Homo sapiens: one gene and its partners. The protein of the gene in region 3 purifies or fractionates together with the protein of the main gene of each other region. This does not show direct contact. Each region holds a gene or a part of one and is shown on either strand. Other genes may lie near its edges.

Region 1 (3,500 bases), on a different chromosome or scaffold from region 3:
TGACCCCAGCGCAAAGTACCATGGCATCCTCCAGGCCTCTAGGCAGATTCTGCAGGAGGAGGGTCCGACAGCTTTCTGGAAAGGACACGTCCCAGCTCAGATTCTCTCCATAGGCTATGGAGCTGTCCAAGTAGGTGGCAAGGGACCTGGCCAGACCTCTGGGGTCACGTTGCTCAGTGGAGGAGCAGAGGGAGGGTGAGGCAAGCAGGAATGCCGCGCAGGGCAGGACGGAAGAGGCAGGCCCCACGCTTCCCACCTGCCTCACCCGGGAGCCTTCCTGACCAGCAGTACCGTAGGCATTGCCCTCCGCCATGTCCCTGCGTCTATCCTGTGTGACTTAGGTGTTGCATCTTGGAGACCGATTTGATGTCATGCCTTCTGTGAGGCTTGGCGAAGGACAGCACTAATGCATTTCAGTTTTTGAAATACCACCTTCACATATGTGGTTCATCTGAACTTCACCACACCGTCATGAGGAGGGCAGGGTAGCTGTCATGTGGATCTCAGGGAGGAGAAGTCAGCTGTCCGAGGCCACACAGCCTGCACATGGCGGGGCTAGGGTTAGAACTCATGCTTCGTTCAGTGGAGCACTAGTATAGTCATAGTGCACAGCATGTGATTTTATGCAGTAGATGTGTTTAAGAACCAGCCCTGTACAGTGCAAACCATGGGCCAGGCCCCTGTTGGAAGCACTTCACATACACTCTGTCACAGCAGTCCTTAAGGTAGGGGCTGTTGTCCCTCCCATGTCATGCATGAGAAGACTGAGGTGGACAGAGCTTACATAATTAACCCAACCAAAGCCACTGGCTAGAAAATGGCAGAGCCACGACCCCCACCTAGGCAGCTAGTGCCAGAGATGTCCCTTCCTACTCTTCCTGTGACATCACAGTGACCGCCCAAGTCAGGTGCTTACTGGCTGGGCATGCCCTGCGATCCTGTCTCTGCACTTGTCTGCAAACAGATATTGCAGCATGACGAATAAATACAGCAACAGGATAGTCTCAAGAAGCCAGGCGTGGGCTGGACTCAGTGGCTCACACCTGTAATCCCAGCATCTGAGCCCGGGAGGCGGAGGCTGCAGTGAGCCACGATCATGCCACTGCACTTCAGCCTGGGCAACACAGCCAGACCCTGTCTCAAAAAAAGAAAAGAAGCCAGGCCATCTTCAGTTGGCTGAAGGAAGATCTGAGCATAGCCCTGGTATAGTGGCTCACACCTGTAATCCCATCACTTTGGGAGGCTGAGGTGGGAGGATGGCTTGAGCTCAGGAGTTTGAGACCAGCCTGGGCAACATTAGGGAGACCTCCTCTCTACTAAAAATAAAAAATAAATTAGCCAGATATGGTGGTACACACCTGTCGTCCCAGCTATTCCAGAGGCAGGAGAATAATTTGAGCTAGAGAAGTCAAGGCTGCTGTGAACTGTGATCGAGCCACTGCACTCCAGCCTGGGCAACTGAGCACGACCTTGCCTCAAAAAGCAAAACAGGGCCAAGCTCGGTGGCTCATGTGTGTAATCTCAGCCCTTTGGGAGCCCAAGGCGGGCAGATTGCTTGAGCTCAGGAGTTTGAGACCAGCCTTGGCAACATAGTGAAACCCTGGTTCTACAAAAAATACCAAAATTAGCTGGACATGGTGGCATGCGCCTGTAATCCCAGCTACTTGAGGAGCTGAGGTGAGAGGATCACTGGAGCCCAGGAGGTTGAGGCTGCAGTGAGCCGTGTTTGTGCCACTGTACTCCAGCCTGGGTGACAGAGAGACACTCTTGTCCCTAAAAAAAAAAAAAAAAAAAAAAAAAGAAAGATCTGAATGTAAGGGGGTCACCCTGTGGAACATGCTCCCAAAAGAATCTGCCCCAGAAAAGAATGATTCTCGAACAGTGCCGCCACCAGGTGCCGCCGCCAGCTGCACTGAAGGGGTCCCTGCAGGAATCAGAGCATGGCCGTCTTCCCCAGTTCTCAGAAAACTAAGTTAGCCAGTGACATTTTCTGATATACATTGTTCTCATGTATCTTTTTTATTTTTTCTTGAGACAGAGTCTCACTCTGTTGCCCAGGCTGGAGTGCAGTGGCGCAATCTCAGCTCACTGCAACCTCCGCCTCCTGGGTTCAGGCGATTCTTCTGCCTCAGCCTCCCAAGTAGCTGGGGTTACAGGCCCACGCCACCATGCCTGGCTAATTTTTGTATTTTTAGTAGAGACAGGGTTCCACCATATTGGCCAGGCTGGTCTCCAACTCCTGACCTCATGATCTGCCCACCTCGGCCTTCCAAAGTGCTGGGATTACAGGCGTGGGCCACTGCACCCAGTCTTTTTTTTGAGACCGAGTCTTGCTCTGTCGCCCGGGCTGGAGAGCGCAGTGGCATGATCTTGGCTCAGTGCAGCTCTGCCTCCCGGGTTCAAGTGATTCTCCTGCCTCAGCCCCCCAAGTACCTGGGACTACAGGTGCCCGCCACCATGCCTGACTAATTTTTGTATTTTTAGTAAAGACAGGGTTTCACTATGTTGACCCGGCTGGTCTCGAACTTGTGACCTCGTGATCTGCCCGCCTCGGCCCCCCAGAGTGCTGGGATTACAAGTGTGAGCCACTGCACCTGGCCCCCATATATCTTCTTAACCCTTTGAGTGTCTGACTCTACTCAAGTATCAAATGGCATCCGAGTTTTGCGTAGAATGTTGTATTTATCATATGCTGTCACTGCTCAAGAAGAACATTTCCTGACCTTTTCCTCGCCCCTCCACCTGGGCCCCAGCCGGGTCACGGGTGATGTATTTGGGGAGTATTTGGTCCTCACCCTCATCCTTTGGGCTGTCGGTGACTTCTTCACTTACTCTTGCAGTTCTTGTCATTTGAAATGCTGACGGAGCTGGTCCACAGAGGCAGCGTGTATGACGCCCGGGAATTCTCAGTGCACTTTGTATGTGGTGGCCTGGCTGCCTGTATGGCCACCCTCACTGTGCACCCCGTGGATGTTCTGCGCACCCGCTTTGCAGCTCAGGGTGAGCCCAAGGTGAGTGGCCAGGAGCCAGACCGGGGAAGCCCAAATAAGGAAGGTGTTGTCACAGGGGTAGCATTCTTTATTTTTTATTTATTTATTTATTTATTTTTGTTTTGTTCTGTTTTGTTTTGTTTGAGACAGAATCTCGCTCTGTCATGCAGGCTGGAGTGCAGTGGTGCGATCTTGGCTTACTGCAAGCTCCACCTCCCGAGTTCAAGCGATTCTCCTGCCTCAGCCTCCCGAGTAGCTGGGATTACAGGCACCCGCCACCACGCCTGGCTAATTTTTTTTGTATTTTTAGTAGAGACGGGGTTTCACCATGTTAGCCAGGATGGTCTCGATCTCCTGACCTCACGATCCGCCCGCCTCGGCCTCCCAAAGTGCTAGGATTACAGGCATGAGCCACTGCGCCCGGCCTATTTTTTATTTATTTATTTATTTATTTTGAGACAGAGTCTCGCTCTGTTGCCAGGCTGGAGTGCAGTGGTGCGATCTATTTTT
Region 2 (2,816 bases), on a different chromosome or scaffold from region 3:
AGGCTGTCGAAGAACGGGCCAGTTAAATCACCATCTGGGTGTCACAGCCTGCCTGACAATCATGCCTAATCTCATATCAGGGATATGCAGTAATAGCTTGCATTTGAAAGCTTTAAAAAAACAAACAAACCAAACCCTTCCACATCTTGCTAATTTTAATGTTTTGCAGTTCTGTCATTCCTCTAAGGGATCAGTGAGGGCAGTAAAACTTGAGCAGGCCTCCTCTTTCTCCCCTTCCTTTTATAGGGTAGGGGTATGTTTTTCAAAGACTTTTCAAATTGTGAACTGTAATATACAGAGATATACCATATTGGTGGTTGTGGTGTGTGTGTTTTTCTTTAAGAGAATAAAAAGAAACTTGTTTCTCTTCTGAGCCTTGAATTGCCTTCAGGCTAAAAAAACAAATGACCAATCTGGTTTCTAATTATCAAAGGACATAATAACAGCAGGTTTGGCTTTCTGATCTAGGTTTATCAAGTAGGATGGCAGATGCATCAATTAAAAAAAGCTTGGTGCTTTTGGGGGGCAGCCAACAGTTACTTTACTTTAAATGGCCATATTCTAACTTAACGGCTTGTAGCTACTTCTCAGTTGTGGGCAACACAGGATACAAGATTCTAGTGGCAAAATCAGCGAGCCCTGGAGCCTGCCTTCCACTTGAACTTTCTCTGTTGGGGGAAGTCCTTCTGCTAAATTTTGCATAAAGATCAGATGACAAAATACAGCTCCTTGCAAAAGCAGTAACTGCTTTGAAATTACCATAAATTTTTGTTGATTATGTATAATTGGGTATCTTTTTATACTAATTATTTGCATTTAATTTCACTATCTACTTAAGCAGTGGAGATGGCTTCCATATTGTCTTAGAGTGAGTAGCAAAGCAAGACAGCCCTAGCATTTTCTCCAGCAAGTGTTCTATTTTATTATGTACTTTGGAGGAATATTATTGTACCAGAAGGCATGGATGTTGAGAAACCAGCACTTGGAAAATACATTTTGATTTAATGGTAAAGCTGTATTTGTTTAAAATGGAGGAGGTGAGTATAGGAAGGTATAACTGCTTTTCTAAATGGAATGCTGATACATTTGTATCACCATTTTCCATTCCATTTAGAGTAGTTATATCTTCTCTGTACACACTAAATTTTGTGTTTAAAAGGGGTTTTTGGCCAGGCGTGGTTGCTCACGTCGGTAATCCCAGCATTTTGGGAGGCCGACGGGTGGATCACGAGGTCAGGAGATCGAGACCATCCTGGCTAACATGGTGAAACCCTGGCTCCACTAAAAATACAAAAATTAGCTGGACATGGTAGCGGGCGCCTGTTGTCCCAGCTACTCGGGAGGCTGAGGCAGGAGAATTGCTTGAACCCGGGAGGTGGAGGTTGCAGTGAGCTGAGATCATGCTACTGCACTCCAGCCTGGTGACAGAGTGAGACTCCGTCTCAAAAAAAAACAAAAAAACAAAAACCCGAGTTGTTGTCTGTTTTGGGAAGAGGCATGAAGGTATCGAGTATGATGTAAACAGACTCCAGTCACTGACTGCTGTCCCTTCCCAGGCAGGATGCATGTAGTATAACAAGTAGTGCAGGGCGCAGGCTCTGGAACCAGGCTGACTAGGTTGGAATCCTGTCACTTTCGAAGCGCTTCACTCAGTGTTGGCTCAATTTTCTTGTTTATAAAACAGGAGTAATAGTAATGCCTACCTCATGGGGTTATTGTGAAGATCAGATGAATTTATAAGCAGGCAGCACCTAGTGTAAGGCAATAATCACTGAGTAAATTCACATAGTAACTGCTCTAGTATAAGGTCAAGTATAAAGCCTGTCCTCTTCAGGGTTTCTGCTGTGGACAAGTCACCTGTCATGACTTACTCTTGCTGCCAAGAAGGGTTTAAGCGGAGGTATCAGATCATGCTCTCTGCCTTCAAGCAAAATTTTAAACATTAGGATCTGCTAAGTGGAATAGGTTTAAACACATTCTCAGTTTACTAATAAAAGAGTCAAAGATGGGAAATAGTTGGAAAATACTATTGAGAGTGTAGGCTTGGGTTTAAGTTCTCTTAGCTGTTCTGTGAACTCTTAGTTTATTAATTTTAAGGTGGGAAATCATCTAACCGTCTGGGGCCCCAGCTCTCCCACCATCTGTGAGAAGGGAAGAATGTACCTGGAAGGCAGATTCTGAATAAATTTTAAAACATACCCATACTTCCAACATAGAAAGCCTTCTTCCCCTGTCTCCTTTGATGGGCTCAGCTGAGAGCCTTTTAGAAATGCTGTGCAAGGCTCAAACATGCAGGCTGTGGATTTGGCCTTTGAAAGTGAATGTATTTTGTATCCTTTGATCCAGTTTGAGCCATATTTAGATATACCAAGATGCTATCAGTCATTCTTTGGTTGCTGGGCTTGTGGGTGTAATATTTTTGTTTCCATACTGTTCTGCATGGATTACTTTTATAAGCAGAGAAAAAAACGTTCAGAGTGTGAATTTAGCTGAAATCTGAATACATTTAAGAAACATGAAAAACGAATGCCGTCTGTGGTCAGGTCATGGGGCTGAGTACAGAAAAGACAAAGTTAAATAAGACGTCCCTCGCTGCCTTCAACATGACAAGTGCCATGGGAACAGCAGGAGAGGGAGGTGTTCTCGGAGGTCAGATAACTATGTGGAAGTGACTTTGTTCTCTTCTCTCCGTTTGTGTCCCCGTCTTTCTGCACCAGGTACCGCTGGCTGCCCAGTAGGAGAGGAGGAGTATCAGGATTTGGTGTGCCCCCTGCTAGCATGAGGCGAGCTGCTGATCAGAATGGCGGAGGCGGGAG
Region 3 (4,101 bases):
TCATATCACCCTTCAGGAATGAATACTATTAATTTATTCAGAAATATGAACTTTCCTGATATAAAATATTTATAATAATACAATAATTTGAAAACTAACAATCAGACAAAGGAAATGAGTAACATTACTAAAGACAACAGTAGAAATTTAAAAAAAAGTAGAATTCAAGATTACTAAAGGGTTAAAAAAAACTAAGGTGAAAAGTGAGGAAGACAAAATTAACAGACGGTCGGAAAGCTACAGATACCTACATTATTCTAGAAATTCTGATTTCCTCCTAGAGTCCTGGCTTACAATATTTGGGAATATAGGCTTCAAGAACTTGAAATCATTACTTTCAGAGCCTCCCGTCAGACACACCTCGTACTGGTAGCTCTGGGAAAGGGTCCCGGTGCCGCTCACGTCCACCAGATGCCCTGGAAAGGGGCCCTCGGGCACCGAGCAGCGACCCACTGAGGCCGCCCTGCTCCTCCTGCACAGCCGCACTGCCACGAACAGGAACACCGAGAAGAGGAAGAGCGAAGACACCGAGGCCAATGCCACCACCAGGTAGACGGTAAGCGAGTCGGCCTGGGCTTGGGCCGGGGCCGCCTCTGGGAGCGGCAGGTAGGGCTGAGAGAAGCCGTCCACCAGGAGCACTTGCAGCGTGGCGGTGGCCGAGCGCGGAGGCTCGCCATTGTCCTTGACCAGCACCACTAGCCTGTGCTTGGCCACGTCGCGCTCGCTCAGCAGCCTGGCGGTGCGCACCTCGCCATTGTGCGCCCACACGCCGAACAGCCCGGGCTCCGTGGCCTTGAGCAGCTGGTACGACAGCCAGGCGTTCTGGCCCGAGTCGCCGTCCACCGCCACCACCTTGGTCACCAGGTAGCCCGGCTCGGCCGCCCGGGGCACCAGCTCGGTGCAGGGCGCGGAGCCGTTCTGCAGCGGGTACAGCACGAAGGGCGAGTTGTCGTTGGCGTCCAGCACCAGCACTCGCACCAGCGCCTCGCTGCTCAGCGCCGGGAAGCCGCGGTCTGTGGCGCCCACGCGGAACTCGAAAGCCTGCAGGGCCTCGTAGTCCAGCGACTGGAGAGCGAACAGGTGGCCGTTGTCCGTGTTAATGGAGACCAGGGAGGTGAGGGGCAGGTGCGGGTCCCGGGGCGGCAGCAGCGAGTAGGTGACCTGGGCGTTGGTGCCCGAGTCTCTGTCTGTGGCGCTGACACTGCCGATGTGCAGGGCGGGGCTGTTGTTCTCGCGGACGAACAGGGTGTAGGAGGTTTGGGTGAAGGCGGGGGCGTTGTCATTGACGTCCGACACCAGCACGGTTATGCTCTGCTCGGTTTTCAGCCTTGGAGTCCCCAAGTCTGTGATGGTGATGGTGATGTTGTACTCGGCTCTGGTCTCTCTGTCCAGCGCCCCTTCTGTTACCAGCCTGTAGAAATTCTCAACAGAAGGTTTTAGCTTAAAAGGAACATCATCCTGAATTGAGCAAATCATTTTTCCATTTTCCCCAGAGTCTCGGTCTCTAATCCTAAACAGGGCCACTTCTGTCTCTGGAGAATTCTCGGGAATAGGGCTGGTAAGTGATGAAATACTTAGTTCCGGGAAGTTATCGTTAACATCCAGCACCTTAACAGAGACAGAGCATTTTCCAGAAAGTCCCCCGCCATCAGATGCCTCTATATCTAGATCATACGAAGACATTGTCTCAAAATCTAGTTTTTTAATTAGTCGAATTTCTCCTGAAAGGCTGCTTAGCTCAAAAGGTTTGTCTATCTCCTGAGAGCTGTAATAAAGGGAGTATGATATCTCTCCATTTGTCCCAGTGTCTAAATCCCTAGCAGAGACCTTGACAACTAGGGAGCCTACTGGGCTGTTCTCTGGGACCTGCACCTCGTAGAGCGCCTGCACAAACTCCGGGGCATTGTCATTGGCGTCCAAGACCAAGATGAGGATCTGGACGGTGCCAGATCGGGGTGGAGAGCCACCGTCCACCGCTGTCAAGGTTAATCTGAGCTCGGCCTGCTCCTCGCGATCCAGTTCTGTGTCCAGCACCAGCTCTGGGTATTTCCTGCCATCCCCTCGGGTGCGAGTGGAAACATGGAAATGAGAATTGGGAGAAATATTGTAGTTTTGAACATTATTGCTGCCCACGTCCAAGTCCCGAGCTTTTTTCAGAGGAAACACAGTCCCAAGGGAGCTAGTTTCTGGGATTTTCAGGGTCATTTCTCTTTCAGGAAACTCAGGAGAATGATCGTTTATGTCTGTCACTAGTAGTTCAGCTCGAAATACTTCCAAAGGTTTTTTCAGTAACACTTGGAAATGCATTATACAGGGCTCAGTAGGGCCACACAGCTTCTCCCGGTCCAGCTTCTCATTTAATATCAACTGCCCGGTCTGCAGATCAAGCTGCAAGCCTTGTTCGTTATCCTCAGAAACTACCCGGGCTCCCCGCTCGGCTAGCTCCCCCACTCCCAGCCCTAGGTCATTGGCCAGGTTGGCTACAAAAGAACCTCTCTCTGTTTCCTCCATCACAGAATAGCGACGGGGTTCCCAGCCTGCCAGAGTCACTTCCAGTAAAAGAAGGAGAATCAGGACTTGCCTTTGTTCGGGAAAGCGCTCCCCTGCAGGCTCCATCTTTACTTCTGTACACGCCCCTTTCAAGGAACCGGAGTCAGAGCTACTTCAGGGAGCGATGGGACAGAGGCAGTGATCGATCTGTGCGTTGATAACCTGTTCGGAAATGTAGGAGAATAGCATTCTCCGGAGACACTGGTCCGTGCTCTGCTAACAGGCTTTCCTCTTAGGCTGAAAGAGGTCTGAAGTAGCTAGTAGCATTTCATGGGCTTTTTCCTTTTCCTTTTTTTGAAGCCTTAGCCTGCAGCGCCACCATGCGTTGTCTTTGCTTCGAAACGAATTGCTACAATTGATCTATTCTCTATTCTATTAGGAGTTTGGAAATTGGGAGGAAATGATGTAATCACAATATCACGCAATGGTAATTATTAATTTCTTCATTTAAAGGAGTATTATTGGTCTCTATGTGCCAAATTATGAAATACATCAGTAAACAACCCAGACATGGTCCCCACCCTCCAGAGCCTGTAGTCTGGGTGTAGTGTTCTGAGGGAAATTGAGAAGTGAAAGAAGACATAATAGTGATCAGTCATCTTGTAATAATAATAACATAAAGCCACGTGATTTCTTAAAAATTTATCAGCAAAACAAAATGAATTCTTTAATTTCTTTCAAATTCTAGACAGCCTATGTACCAGAATTGTGCTCCCATTGGTTGGATTACATCAAGAAAAAGCTACACGTTAATTCCAGTGTGGTATCCTTTCTACATAAAGTCAGAGAGTTATGATTTTATGAAAATTTTAAACTGTGGAAAAATACATATGAAGGCACTTCCTATATCTCTTACTTTGCTTTTTCTTTTTTTTCTTTTCATTTTTCCTTTTTTTTTTTTTGAGATGGGGTCTTGCTCTGTTGTCCAGGAGGGAGTGCAGTGGCACAATCACTGCTCATTGCAGCCTTGACTACCCAGGCTCAAGCAATCCCCCCACCTCAGCAACTGTAGCTGGGACCACAGTTGCGCATCACCATGCCTGGCTAATGTTTTAATTATTTGTAAAGATGAGGTCTTGCTATGTTGCCCGGGCTGGTCTCAAATTTCCGAGCTCAAGCAATCCTCCTGCCTCAGCCTCCCAAAGTGCTGGGGTTATAGGCATGAGCTGCTGTACCCAGCCCTGCCTTGTCTCTCTCGTATTTATTATCTGACGTAGTATAGATGTACTTATTTAGTTGTTTCCTTTCTGTTTCAACCTCACATGTTAGAACTTCATTTTGTTCACTGCTGCATCCCCAATATCTAAAATAATCCCTGGCACATGGTACGTGCTCAATAAATATTTGTTAAATGGATCCATTAATAAATCACAATTAATTTAAACATTCTGACAGATAGGTTCTCCTCCTACTGTAGAAATTCCCTCTTCTTCTGGGATTCAAGTTCATTATATAAGATGGATAAACAAAGACAACATGTTCATAAGGTAGCTATTTCCTATGCCCTTTAAATAGTAATGTGAAATAACTCAGAATGACCTAAAATGTCAT
Region 4 (3,500 bases), on a different chromosome or scaffold from region 3:
GTCAGATATTGTAGCCCAACAATTTCTAACTGCTGATTTGAAAAGGAGAGACCACCACGATTCTCAAGTCAACGCAGGAACCCTGATCCAGGATTTCTTTCTTTCTTCCTGTTTTTCTCATTGCTCTGTCTACCTGGACCAATGTTTACATTCCTTTGCTTTTCTTATTCCATCCTCACTTACCCCTTCTGACATTTCTCACCTCTTCTCTCAGAGGCTACATCGCTAAGAATGAATACTTCAGCTCAGGTAATTTCTTTCTTCAGTTACTTTCTTTTTCTTAGCATGCAAGCCTCAAAAAATCCTCACTTGAATTACCTGTGATTGCCTTGTTTCTCTAGGCCTTTGGCCCTTTCTAGAGAAGTGTAAACTTTGCAGAGGGTAATGTAAATGAAGGATCGGCAGAGGCAGAAATGCAGGAGCTCCAGGGTAAAAATCTGTCTGTCTAGCTGGCTCCCGGTCCATGGAGATTAGGATCCTGCTGTGCTCACAGGCACCCCCACTGATTACAGCCTCTGCTTTTTTTAGGCTTTGTTTACATATTCCCATCTCTACCTATCCTGAAACTAAACTCATCCCTCTTCCCACACACCCCACTCCTCTAAGCAGTGAGCAGTGCACCCATATCCAATTCCAACATCAATTTCAACATCACTGCCAACTTTCATATTCCCATGTATGGAAGCATGGGTAGATGTCCCTAACCAATTCTGAAAGCTCCCATAGTTTACAAGCAAACAATCATTTAAGCAAATGTAGTCTTCTCTGAATTGCACCAATAGAACAAATATAGCAACAATTATTATTCAGTACTATCCCTGCTATATACAAAGAAATACGATCATAAGTGTTCTCCTGGAAGGAACAGAGGCCATTTAGGCTTTAAATTGTCCAAAAAGCAAAGAAAACCAGAAAAGCTGGTTTCTTGGCTAAAGATTTATTTATTCCTGTTTCAAGAACAAATACACAGCCCTGAAAGTTTCTGGGCAAGAGTCAATCTGCATATGGAATGGATAATTCAAGACCATTGTTCTTTCTAGATTATAAACCCCAGAAAGGTAGGCTTGAAATGTGTCTGAATGACCAGCCTCACTTCATGTACAGGTCAGGTGCCAGCACCGAGAGGGTGTTTTGGCAAATGCCGTGCACATGTGAGCCAGTGTGTGATTCTTCACACTTCTCCATCAGTACGGGCTCCTCTGTGCCGGGCACTGTGCTAGGGGCTGGAGAGAACAAGACCATTAAGATGCTGCCTTCAAGAAATCTACACTGAGCAGAGAAAGAGATGCATGTTCACATAAAAAAGCAGCCAAGCATTGCAGGTGCTAAGAGAGCAGTCTGGGATGTTAGAAGGACACGATAACTCTGAGCTGAGAGGAAGGAAGGTCAAGGATGGCTCCACAGACATGAGGACACACACAAGCTGAGGCTTACGGATGGAGAGGGTGCTGGCCAGGAGTGAGAGAGAGAGGAAGAGACAGGAACAGGAAGAAACACCAGTAGAACCCAAAGTGGTTCGCATGGCTACCTTGGGTGTGAGGCGGGGGAGCAGAGAGAAAAGGGAGAGAGGCAGACAGGAGCCAGGCCTTGGGGCTCATGTCATTCCAAAGAAGATCTGGGCTCTTTCTCCTGAAGGTGAGGGGTGGCACTGAGGATTTTAAGTGGGAGAGCAAGATGATCAGGTTTGGGTTCGCTCTGGAAGCAGAGCTGTGAGATGGCATGAGTGGGCCTCTTCCCCACTCCGGGTTACTCCTGGCCTCTCTCCATCCCCTTACTCACAGTGGCCAGGGGGCAACTGAGCAGGTGATGCACAGTTCCAGCCCGACCTCCTCTTCCCCCATCTCAAGGCAGCAGGCCTCTGCTCCACCCTCCCTCCCCGAGGCTTGCCTGACCCCTCCTCCCAGGGGACCACACTGGCCAGTGCTGCCAGCCACTCAGGGGGAGTCAGCCTCATGCTGGGGTTCAGTCTCAGCAGGCCCACCAACCTACAGAGACAGTCACTTCCTCCAACCTGGTCTTAGTAGTAATAAAGGTGATATCTAGCTCTGACTGTCACTTCTAGTTGTATTTCTCAGTTTGTTCAGATCCTGGGTGGGGAAAGAGGACTCTTGGGGAACTTAACATAAAACTGGATTGAAGGGATGTGAGACTGGAAATCAGGAGACCAGTCAGGAAGTTATTAGAAGATGACGGGTGCCCAGAAGAGGGCCAAGAGACACCAAGAGGGAGAGCGTGCTGTGGAGGAAGCAGGGCAGAGGCAGGGGACGCTGGGAGCTCCATCCATCCTGACTGCATCATGGACACACACGCTTCCCTGCCACGAGCTGCCTCTCTAAGATCACTGAACCGGGAAGCGCAAACACCACTTCAGCTTCTCTCTCCCTTGGTTCCTAGGACAGAATGAGCAAGCACAGCTGCTGTCAGCAGTGGCCTGTGTGTCTTACCCATGTATGGGGCAGGCCAGGCCGACTGGCCCCCTCCTCCATAGGGGTCCTGGGGCTTGGTACTCAGAGCACTCGTGTGAAGAGCAGAATCAGAATTGGTCCTAAGGAGGGGAGGAGAGAGGCTGGCTGAAAATCCGTTTTCCTTAGTGAAAATGCAATAGTCTTTGTTGAATATTACCAACAGGAAAGAAGGCAAGAATAACTGATTTATAATCAACCATCAAATAAGGGGTTAGGACCTACCTGAAGTTCTTTATATCAATTAACAGCCTCTGAGGATCGCCCACACTCCAGAATATTTTAACTTAGACTCATATAGCCTTATATGCTGAAGCTGATGGCATGGCGATCAAGTTCAACAAGGTGGGCCTCGGATTCATGGCTTCCGTCTAAGAGCTTCCTATTCTTCCCAGCTCGGAAGCTGGCTGTGGCCAGTTTAGCCTGTGGCTGCACTAGGTTTTCTCCACCTGAGAGTAGCTGTTTCTAAGTAAAGGATCACTTAGAGCAGTGGTTTGCAAAACCCTTCCAGGGAGAAGGTAAGATCAAGACTATTCTCAAAATGATAGTAAAGTGTCCTCTGTTTTTTCACTCTCGCTCTCTCCCAAGCACGGCGGGCTTCCCCAGCGGCCACGTGAGGTGTGATGCCCCCACCGCTGAGCGCAGGCACAGACCACCCAGCTGCCTTGGAGGGATTTGTAAAAGGTGAACATTGTCACTATTTTCAATACTTTTTTTGTGTTTCTTTTCAAAAAGATATAATTTATGTTAACATGTAATGGGCTTATTATTTTTTTAATTCACTAGTATCTTTAAAAAATCTCTCAGTTTAATTTCTAATATCAATAGATATTCTCACATAAACAAATACTCTTTGAGGGCCTCAATATTTTTTTTATTTTATTTTATTATTTTTTTCTGAGACAGAGTCTCGCTCTGTTGCCCAGGCTGGAGTGCAGTGGTGTGATCTCGGCTCACTGCAACATCTGCCTCCCGTGTTCAAGAAATTCTTCTCCCTCAGCCTCCCGTGTAGCTGGGATTATAGACGTGCGTCACCAT
Region 5 (3,500 bases), about 25 Mb from region 3:
GGCGGAAATTAGATCATGGGGCATTTGTAAGTGCTTACTAGATTTAACTCCATACGTCACAGTAAGTTACACAGCTTAAGACTGATTATCAACCAGAAAAAAAAGAAGAATGACACTTCTTAAGTTTTGGATAGATTTACCGTCAAGATCTCTTCCAAAATTACATTGTTTTGACATAAATGCAAGAAAACTGAGCTAAGATACTAAACTCTTTCATGAAATACTTTTATTTATAATGACTGGAATTTTAGTATTTTAGAAATAATAATTTAGGAATCATTCCAAACATATTTTTCTAAATATAGTTTAGCTATTTCATAGTTAAGTTTACAATAATGAATTCACCTTCTTAAAAGACCCCTAAACACTTACATAATTTACAATCAAGGCTATATGTAACCAAAATTAAACTAACATCCATCCCAACAGAATATGGGAAAATGGCATCTCTCCCTCCCTCCCTCCCTCCCTCCCTCCCTCCCTTCCTTCCTTCCTTCCCTCCCTCCCTCCCTTCATCCTCTCTTTCTCTGTCTCTCTCTCTCTCTTTCTTTTTGAGACAGAGTTTCACTCTGTCACCCAGGCTGGAGTGCAATGGTGCTATCTCAGCTCACTGCAGCCTCTGCCTCCTGGCTTCAAGCAATTCTCCTGCCTCAGCCACCAAAGTAGCTGCAATTACAGGCGCACACCACCACACCTGGCTGATTTTTGTACTTTTAGTAGAGATGGGGTTTCACCATGTTGCCCAGGCTGGTCTCGAACTCCTGAGCTCAGGAGATCTGCACGCCTAGGCCTCCCAAAATGCTAGGATTACAGGCGTGAGCCACTGCGCCTGGCCAGCATCTATTTCTTACACAGTAAAAATAATACTAAACTTATAAGTTCTGTAGAAACAACTTCCCAAGGTATATACTACTTCTATGTCTTCTAATAGCAAAAGGAGAAATGATCTTTGACAAGAATAAAAATTTCCTACTATGCTAGATACTCTTCTAGAGAAGATGTTTAATTTAAAAATATCTACATGCAATTTAAAGATTCTGAGAGTATATTTACAGACTATGACTGCAATTGTTCCCTGAAAGAGGCAAAAAGAACACAAATAGGAGGCTTTACTCCATTCTGAATCAGCGATTTAGTGATTATCTTAAAACTTTTGCTTTACTTTAAAAGGACAGCAAACTTCTGAAGAATATAAGTTTCAAAAAGGCCAGTAATGCTATTAAAAGCAAGCAAAATATTAATGCGGCAAGTACATATTTTGCCTTTAAAAATATAATCTTATCTTTAAGCTATAGTATAATACTGACAAAAATTCCTGTACAGAATGTAATACATCATATAAAACCACAGGACTGAGAAATCCTGTTAGTCCAAATAACTCATTTTATAGAGGAGAAAACTGAGGCCTGAGAATTTAAGTAACCTGTCCAAGGAAATCAGCTAGTTAGTGACAAAACTAGGATTAAACTAGATGTGAGGCCTCATCTCTGCTGCAATATTTGCTTTCTATTTTTTGTAAGGTTAAAAAAGAACAATCACAATTTCCAGCCACAATTTCTAATTCAAATAGCACCCTAGTAAGATTAATCAAGTTCTTACATGCAGTGCACTGTGCTGGGTGGTAAGTTTCCTAGGAGATAAGAAATCAAGAGGCTAGGATGAGAGGAAGTGATAGTAATGTCAAAGACAACTAAAATTAAATAAGTACAAGTAAAATTCAAAAACAGAAGCAGGTACACTTGTCTCAATTATTAAATTAGAAGCCTTGAGTTAACAGCAAAATTTGTAAGTATGTATTGGACATTTAAGGACAGCATGATATAATCTTTCAGGAAACCCAAGTTAAGTGTTCCACATGATAAAAAGTACCTTATGACCATGGATTCCCTGTTATCCAGAGTATTTCTCATCCATCATACACAGTAAAATACAGAAAATTCTAAGTTTCTCTGACTGATTTATGTTTGAGAACAAACCATTTTCATGGAAGTTATTAGTTTAAAAGTATTTGTTTGTAATATTTGGCAATATTCTTATTCATTTTAAAAATAGAAAAATTGATTAGCTGAATTAGGTATATTTGAAAAACAGACTTCAGTCTTGTAACAGTAAAATAAAGAATGTAATCTAATTTTTATGAACATTCACAAAAAGGAATACTCTGTAGTCATTAAAAAGAATAAGCTTGTCCTAGATGTGTTTCTATGCAAAGCTTTTGAAAATACTGAGAACCAGCAACATGCAAATGAGCATACAAAGTGTGATCTCATAAATAAAAATTTTAAGGTTGTAGGTTAGTCAACACATATAACATACTTTATATGTTAGTCAATACAAACTATTTTCTAGAAGGATACACAAGAAATTGGGTAGAAGGACTAAGGTTGAGAGATTCTTATTTTACATTTTATACTTCCCTGTAATGTTGGAATTTTTACGATTTAATATATTACCTTTATATAAAATTCCCTTCCAAAATTTTTAAGAGGAAAAAAGATTGCATATCTTTTAAAAATAATTCTTTAAGTTAGATTTATAGCTAACATAGGTGGCAATTAATTCACCTAATCCAATTAATCAAAAGTAGAAAACTTTTACCATAAACTGATTAAACAGTATATATTTTAATCACATAGTCAAAACTTAGAAATGTCTATGAAATGCTTTACTTACAATCCTCCTTCTAGGAAATTACAAACATTTTCATCTCTCTTAGATACCAAATGGAAAGTCTCCCTGATGATTTGCTGTTGTGTATCTTCACTCTGAGGAAGAATAATTCATATATATTAGGATGGAGTGTATAGGTTTAATAGCATTTTAAGAATTTTTAAAATCAAAGGTAGCAATATCTGTCTGGGAAATCCATCTAAGAGAGGGGTCCTTGGAGAAGTGACTTAAATTATACCTTACAGAAGCAAAACCCAGTATTTTTTGATGAAAAAGAAAAAAAACCCAATTATTTATATTTACCACTATAATAAAAGTAACACATTTCTAAGTTTCAAAAACCAACAAGAAAAAATATTAGATGAATTACATACACTGGTAAAAGGGAAACTAGATATTAACTAGTCAAAGCTGATTATCTTACAAATGAGTAAACTGAATCAGAAAGGTAAAGATATAAATAGTGTAGCTAATCTATATTTGAATGGAGGAAAGAAATAGAACTATGGAGCTTCCAATTAAGTTTAACCTTTACTAAATATAGACTGAGGTAAGAGTCCATCCATCTTACTCATCTTTATATAAGCCGATCTAAAGCCAAGGATTGGGTCAATAAACATTTATTAACCTGGACCAAGCAATTCATATTCCAGTAAGAGTCAGCGTCCTGGCCGGGCACAGTGGCTCATGCCTGTAATCCCAGCACTCTGAGAGGCCGAGATGGGTGGATCACAAGGTCAGGAGATCGAGACCATCCTGGCCAACACAGTGAAACCCCGTCTCTACTAAAAATACAAAAATAGCTGGGTGTGGTGGCACGTGCCTGTAAT
Region 6 (3,500 bases), on a different chromosome or scaffold from region 3:
GGTCCACCTGCAGCTTCAGGGCATTCACCTCGTCAATGTCCCCAGGGACCCTGCAGGGCACAGGGCAGGTCTCAGGCAACAGGAGCCTGTGCTGCGGCTTCATGATTCCGCCTGGACACTCCCTCCGGTAGGCCCCTGCTGACCCGGGGAGGGGAGCAAAACCTCAGGACCCCCCGCCACCCCGGTTGGCCTCTTTCCCACGAACGTGGGTGGGTGGCGCTCTTCAGGATTCCTGCCCCACACACCTGCGTCCGAGTGTGGTGCTTCCCCAGGCCACCGTCCCTCCCTGGACCCCTGCTGGCTCCCTGGGTGGATGCCCTCACCAAAGGGCCACTGGGGCTCAACCTGCAAGCCTCAGTTTCCCCAGCTGCCCTCCTGGGGCCTGGGTACCCCTTGCCCTGACAGGTGAGTCATGGGAGTGGGTGGCACCCTGTGCCATCCCTGTTCACAGACAAGGGCTGCCTGTCATCTGAGGCTCCCACTCCAGGCTACCCATGGCTGGTGTCCAAGCACGCTCTGGACCCCTGGTGGCCGTCTCTGCAGGGGCGCCCTCCCTGGCTGGCTGTGCTGCCTCTTTGGAATGGGTCCTGCCCTCTCTCCTGGCCTGCACACCCTCAGGGTCAGCTTCCACACTGTGGCCCCACCCTTCCATCTGCTCTCAGGTATGGGTGCGGAAGCAGCCCAGTGGGCCTGAGGCTTAATGGCCCCTGCATGCCACAGATGCATGGTGGACACATGGCTGTGGCCCCCACACCCGGCGCCCGGGGTTGCCGTGGCACCTGAAGATGCCCTCTGTCTGGTCACCGTTGAGCGCCAGCACCTCCTCAGAGAGCCGTGTCTGCACCCAGGGCAGCTGGCGCTCGGGGTAGCGCTCTCTCTGCATGCCCATGACCTCCTGCAGTGCGCTGCCGAACATGGACGGGCTGAACACGGCGTTCTTGGCATGCCGGATCTCCTCCACGTTGGGCTTCTTCAGCCCCTGTGAAGACAGAGGCTCCGTCCTGGTCTGGCCTGGCCATCCTCAGGACCCCCCGCCACCCCGGTTGTCTTCTTTCCCCGAACATAGGTGGGTGGCGCTCTTCAGAATTCCTGCCCCACACACCTGGGTCCGAGTGTGGTGTTTCCCCAGGCCACTGTCCATCCCTGGACCAGCCCTCCTCGCCCCCCAAACCCTAACTCCTCCTGGGCTGCCCCTGGCTCTGCCTCCCCCTCCTCTCATCCCTGTGAACTCCTGGCTCCAACTAGAGCTACGGACAAGCCCAGCTCCCTGGCCAGAGTCACCGTCTACAGCACCAGCTCACAGGGGCCCTTGGGAAGGTGGGAGTGAGTCCTGGGCCGGCCAGGGCTGTTGGGGAGCACAGCAGAGGCCAAGCTAGCTGAGCTGGGGTGAAACTTCCAGAAGTCTGTGGCAGGGCTGAGAGCGCTGGGGAGGGGTATGATGGGAGCAGCGCATCAGAGAGAAGAGGATGTGGGGAAGGGGCCAGGCTCTTGGGACAGGTCCAGGGAACGGGGTCCTGTCCCTGTGGTGCGGTGTGACTGAGCCCGTTGCCTGCCTTGCTCCTGAGCTGGGGGTCCGGGCCCAGGAAGAGCCCCCGGGGGAGGGTGCAGCCCAGAAGAACACGGGGTCAGCCTAGCGTACCCCGCCACCCGCCTAGGCGGGCTCCATGTGGCACCCTCTGCGCTGCTGCCCCATACCAAACTGCAGGCGGGGCTCCTGGGGCTGTCCACCAAGGGTCTCTGTGTCCCCGCCTGCCCTCCCCGGCCCCCCAGGCGCACCCGTACCTTCTTGGCCCCGGTCAGGGCTGCCTTCTGTAGCTTGTGGTAACAGTACTTGGCATACGTGCTTATCGCCACCCCTGGAAAGGAAAGGGGCCTGATCAGCCTGATGTGGGTGTGTGGGTGTGGGGCCAGGAGAGGGGTGAGCAGACACAGCTCCTTCGAGGGCCCTGGGGGGCTGGGCTGGCCTTGCCCCGGTCACCCCCTGCCCAGCACAGCGGGTCCTCACACTCTCCCAGGCAGTGTCCTTTAGAGCAGAGGCCCAAGGAGCACTTCCCCACCTGCAGAGGGACAGGCTTGGGAGGAACCGCCTGGCAGCTCCACCTGCCCTCCTACGGCCACGCAGGAACAGGAAGGGCAGGACCTGGGTCTGAGGGCCTCTAGACCCCACTGCTCCCTCCCCGGGGCCTGACCCAGGGAGCTGTCCAGGTATTTGACTCTTCTCTGCTTCAGGCCCCTCCCTGGCTTTTAGGCTGTGGGCAGGAGCCCCTGGAGGAGTCATTTCCACCTACCCAGCACCCGCAGCCAGTGCTGGGGGAGGCAGGCACTGAGCTATCTGCACAGCAAGCCCAGCTCTGCTGCAGCCCTGGGCCTGAAGTACCACCTCTGGGCTCTTCTGAAGGACTGAGGCAGCAATGAGAGGGCCCAGTCTCCTTTCTCAAAGGAGGGGCTTCCTAAAACTCAGCCCGACAGCAGGGTCCCTGAGGGGAGGGGCAGTGTGCCTGAGTCAGCACCTGATGAGGGACTCAGGGACCTCAGCCTGGGGAGTCTCCAGACACAGAGCCCAGGGGAAGGTGCTAGAGGGGAGAGGATTCCCAGGCTGGGTCTGGAAGGCGCGGCACCTTCCTGCTCCAGGTCGGGAAGCAGCAGATGAGAGAACACGCCAAGAGAAGCTGTCTGGGGCCAGGGGAGCCATGGACCTCGGACAGATGGACAGGACCCTGTGCTTCTGGACATGAGACCTGCCCCAGCGCCCAGCGCCTACCGCCTGCCAGGGTGAGGGGGGCCTCTGGATCCTGACCCCCAATCGGAACACCTTTGTCTTCTTTGAAGGAGCAGTTTCTGGTGGACAGCTGAGGGCATGGGGTCCTTGGACCAGGTTAAAAAAAAGTGCACACGTGTCTTGAGTCCATCTCTAATTATCACAGAATAGTTGACATGTGACTGCTAAGGAGACTCTTTTTTAGAGGAACCAAAATGAATTTTTTTTTTCATAGACGTTTAGGTCCTAGAAAATCTGTCATGGTCCTTGGGACCACAGGTCTTGGCAGAGGATGTGGCCCCAGCCTCCAGCGTGGGACCATGTGGAACCAAGGGCCCCTCTGGGCAGGCTATGAGGTACCCTTGTTTTTCTAGAATGGATGGTGCCCACGCACACTGGACCCAGGCTTCAGAGCCTCAAGAAGGCAAGGAGGGAATGAGCTTTGCAGGAAGGCGGCAGAAACCCAGGGCCTCAGCTCAGCAGCTGGGACATGTAGTCACTAGGCTGGGGGGCCTGGGGCAGACGGCAGGGCTGGGCCTCCTGCTTGCTGTCCCTGCGGGAAGACAGGCCCTGATCTCCTGTCCCCAGGCCCCTGGTGGGACAAACACCCCAGCCTGAGCCTGCTTGGGACTGGGACACCCTCCAACACTCTGTGACTGGGATACACTGGGGCCACCGCCTCTCAGCTGATGAAGGTGATCATAATGCAGTCTCTCTGTGCCTCAGTTTACTCCTCTGTAGG
Region 7 (2,541 bases), on a different chromosome or scaffold from region 3:
GGATTGGCCTGTTATCTTCTTTAGAACTAAGTTCATCTTAAAAATTTAAGAAGGTGGACATTTCAACACCATCAAGTGCATTTAGGTGACATGTTTAAGTTAACTTGACTTCCTTGAATGACCTAGTTAGTAAACTAGTCACTAGTAATTCGGTCACCAAGCAAATCAAGCCTGCAAGAAAGGAAGCCAATATTCAAAATGCCATGTTACCATCTAAACCCATACAAATTAGTTTATTTCCAACAATAATAGGTAACTTTAATAATAAGACATCTAACTAAAGCAAGCTCCTCCAACAAGACCAAGACAGCATCTCTTCTTCTAAGGCTTAGGTTTTGCCCAGAATTCCCGATACATGGAATAGCCCATACCTAAAGAAAAAGAATGCTAGTTAAGCATTTCAGTATTTTCTTAAATATTCAAAAATAAAAACCAGTTCATAAAATAGCTGAAAGTAGCACCACTGCTAGCATGGAATATTTACAAGGGGAATAAGACCCTAGGAAGCTTATACTCTTGCCTTCTTAAACATCTTAAATCTCTAAAACTCTTGTTACATACAGTAGTTTCCCAAGTAGCAAAGGGCTGGTATGGCTACTTCACATGTTACAATATTTCTTTGAAAGAACAATCAATATTTATCTGGTAACTTTGAAAGGAATCACTCTTGCTACATAATACCAGATAAAGTCAATGAATTATAAAGCCAATAGAAGAAGCATGTAATACCTAAACTTTAAGAATCTCTCCTTTAAAAACACAATAAAATAGCAATTGTATGTCTCTCCCAGATAACAGATGTTACTATCAACCCCAATTACATGTCTAGGCTCTTCAATGAAATTATAAACTCAGTGATTGACAGGATTTTTTTTTTCTTTAAAATCTTAGTAGGATATATCATAGAAAAACTATGTCACTACTTGAATTATCTTCATTAATTCATTTTTTACATGAAAATGAGTATAAGTGATATTCTCCAACTGCTAAAAGGTCAGCTAAAAATATTTACCTATTTTGTTTGTAAAGAAATACCTTAATGAGAAACGAAAATTTGAAATTTCCTATAGGAACCTACCAACAGTCATTGCTCCTACAACAAAGCCTTGGGCTGCCACACGCATGTGGATCAGATGAATGGACATTTTAGTATTTCCCCTGCTCTTCAGTTTATATAATCCATATGCAACAATTGCTGCAAAACCCGCTATTCCTGTAAAACAAAGTAACAAGTATGTCAGATGCATGAGAAGGGACCAAGATGACTTTACCATCAGTCAATGTACATTCTATTATTTTTATGAGGATTCTTTATCAGATCATTAATTAGCTAACATACAAATTGAGTTTTTCATGTTTTCCCCTATCAAAACCAAAAATCTTTAAGCAAACAACAACAGATCCAGAAAGTCAGGATTATCTTTAAAAACATGGGTTTGTGGGGCCAGTAGATAAACTCCTTTAAAAAACTGCTAGGGAATTAACAGGAACCTAGATTATGATTATCAGAACGAAAGTGTGCCAAAGGTCTTGACTTAGAGAATGAATTTATTCCATTTCCTCTCTGTCCTATTTCCCTCCCTCAAGGTAATCAGTTAATATACCAGAGACAATCCTACACACTACTACCACTGAGAAACATTGCCTGAATATTTCAAACTTTGGGATATTGTACTGGGAAGAAGTAAATAAAGGAAAAGAATAGAGCAATATTAGTTTCAGTTAAAAGGATTATGATCCTAGAGTTCTATACAGAGCCAAACTCTCATTCATTTTGAGGGCAAAAGCATTCAGGACATGACCTTCCATGTTTTCTTTTTAAGATTTATTATTTTATTTTTTAAGAGATGGGGTCTTGCTCTGTTGCCCAGGCTGGAGTGCAGCCGCACAATCATAGCTCACTGCAGCCTTGTTCTCCCAGGCTCAGGTGATCCTCTTCGCTCAGCCTCCCTAATAACTGGGACTACAGGAGGGCTGTCTTTCCCAAGCTGCCACCCAGGTACTGATACAAAAACCTAGAGGAAAATATCCAGTCAAATAAAAACAGTGAGTCAAAATGGACAGTTCAAGAAATAAAGACATAATGGTTAAGATATAATGGTGAGCAATAAAGACAGAAAAATCTGTACTGGTTCCTTGAAAATGACTGGTATAATATAGCAAAATTAAGAATCTGAAATTAGGCTATGATTATCACAACAAAACGTGTGCTAAAGGTCTTAGGGAATAAATTTATATTCATTTTAATACAGGAAATAGATGAAAAAAACACATCCTAGTTTGACAATGTAAAGATAACCACCAGCAAGCAGTGTAAGAATAGCCGCAGAACTTCCAAATCATAAGGAGGAAAAAAAAATTAGGGCTGGGAGCAGTAGCTCACACCCATCATCCCAGCACTTTGGGAGGTTGAGGCAGGTGGATCACCTGAGATCAGGGGTTTGAGACCAGCCTGGCCAACAGCCTGGTCATCTCTACTAAAAATACAAAAAATTAGCCGGGCATGGTGGCATGCGCCTGTAATCCCAGCTACTTGGGAGG

What was found.
Region 1: the proteins of PCDHB15 (region 3) and SLC25A19 purify together in Homo sapiens (affinity purification with mass spectrometry; one large-scale study listed by BioGRID and IntAct). This does not show direct contact.
Region 2: the proteins of PCDHB15 (region 3) and DERL1 purify together in Homo sapiens (affinity purification with mass spectrometry, with the first as the bait; one large-scale study listed by BioGRID). This does not show direct contact.
Region 4: the proteins of PCDHB15 (region 3) and CRTC3 purify together in Homo sapiens (affinity purification with mass spectrometry; one large-scale study listed by BioGRID and IntAct). This does not show direct contact.
Region 5: the proteins of PCDHB15 (region 3) and AP3S1 purify together in Homo sapiens (affinity purification with mass spectrometry; one large-scale study listed by BioGRID and IntAct). This does not show direct contact.
Region 6: the proteins of PCDHB15 (region 3) and ARHGAP39 purify together in Homo sapiens (affinity purification with mass spectrometry; one large-scale study listed by BioGRID and IntAct). This does not show direct contact.
Region 7: the proteins of PCDHB15 (region 3) and HIGD1A purify together in Homo sapiens (affinity purification with mass spectrometry, with the first as the bait; one large-scale study listed by BioGRID). This does not show direct contact.

The regions. Positions count from the first base shown.
Region 1 is NC_000017.11:75,282,934-75,286,433, reverse strand, and holds part of SLC25A19 (mitochondrial thiamine pyrophosphate carrier), read left to right. Parts: coding exon 1-130; intron 131-2,840; coding exon 2,841-3,011; intron 3,012-3,500. UniProt on the Homo sapiens protein: Mitochondrial transporter mediating uptake of thiamine diphosphate into mitochondria. It is not clear if the antiporter activity is affected by the membrane potential or by the proton electrochemical gradient.
Region 2 is NC_000008.11:123,015,487-123,018,302, reverse strand, and holds part of DERL1 (derlin-1), read left to right. Parts: intron 1-2,717; coding exon 2,718-2,816. UniProt on the Homo sapiens protein: Functional component of endoplasmic reticulum-associated degradation (ERAD) for misfolded lumenal proteins. Forms homotetramers which encircle a large channel traversing the endoplasmic reticulum (ER) membrane.
Region 3 is NC_000005.10:141,244,094-141,248,194, reverse strand, and holds the start of PCDHB15 (protocadherin beta-15 precursor), read right to left. Parts: upstream 2,801-4,101; 5' UTR 2,617-2,800; coding exon 253-2,616; 3' UTR 1-252. UniProt on the Homo sapiens protein: Potential calcium-dependent cell-adhesion protein. May be involved in the establishment and maintenance of specific neuronal connections in the brain.
Region 4 is NC_000015.10:90,606,423-90,609,922, reverse strand, and holds part of CRTC3 (CREB-regulated transcription coactivator 3), read right to left. Parts: intron 2,546-3,500; coding exon 2,445-2,545; intron 1-2,444. UniProt on the Homo sapiens protein: Transcriptional coactivator for CREB1 which activates transcription through both consensus and variant cAMP response element (CRE) sites.
Region 5 is NC_000005.10:115,865,935-115,869,434, reverse strand, and holds part of AP3S1 (AP-3 complex subunit sigma-1), read right to left. Parts: intron 2,766-3,500; coding exon 2,674-2,765; intron 1-2,673. UniProt on the Homo sapiens protein: Part of the AP-3 complex, an adaptor-related complex which is not clathrin-associated. The complex is associated with the Golgi region as well as more peripheral structures.
Region 6 is NC_000008.11:144,532,347-144,535,846, forward strand, and holds part of ARHGAP39 (rho GTPase-activating protein 39), read right to left. Parts: intron 1,857-3,500; coding exon 1,783-1,856; intron 980-1,782; coding exon 780-979; intron 51-779; coding exon 1-50.
Region 7 is NC_000003.12:42,784,950-42,787,490, forward strand, and holds part of HIGD1A (HIG1 domain family member 1A, mitochondrial), read right to left. Parts: intron 1,214-2,541; coding exon 1,079-1,213; intron 372-1,078; coding exon 322-371; 3' UTR 1-321. UniProt on the Homo sapiens protein: Proposed subunit of cytochrome c oxidase (COX, complex IV), which is the terminal component of the mitochondrial respiratory chain that catalyzes the reduction of oxygen to water. May play a role in the assembly of respiratory supercomplexes.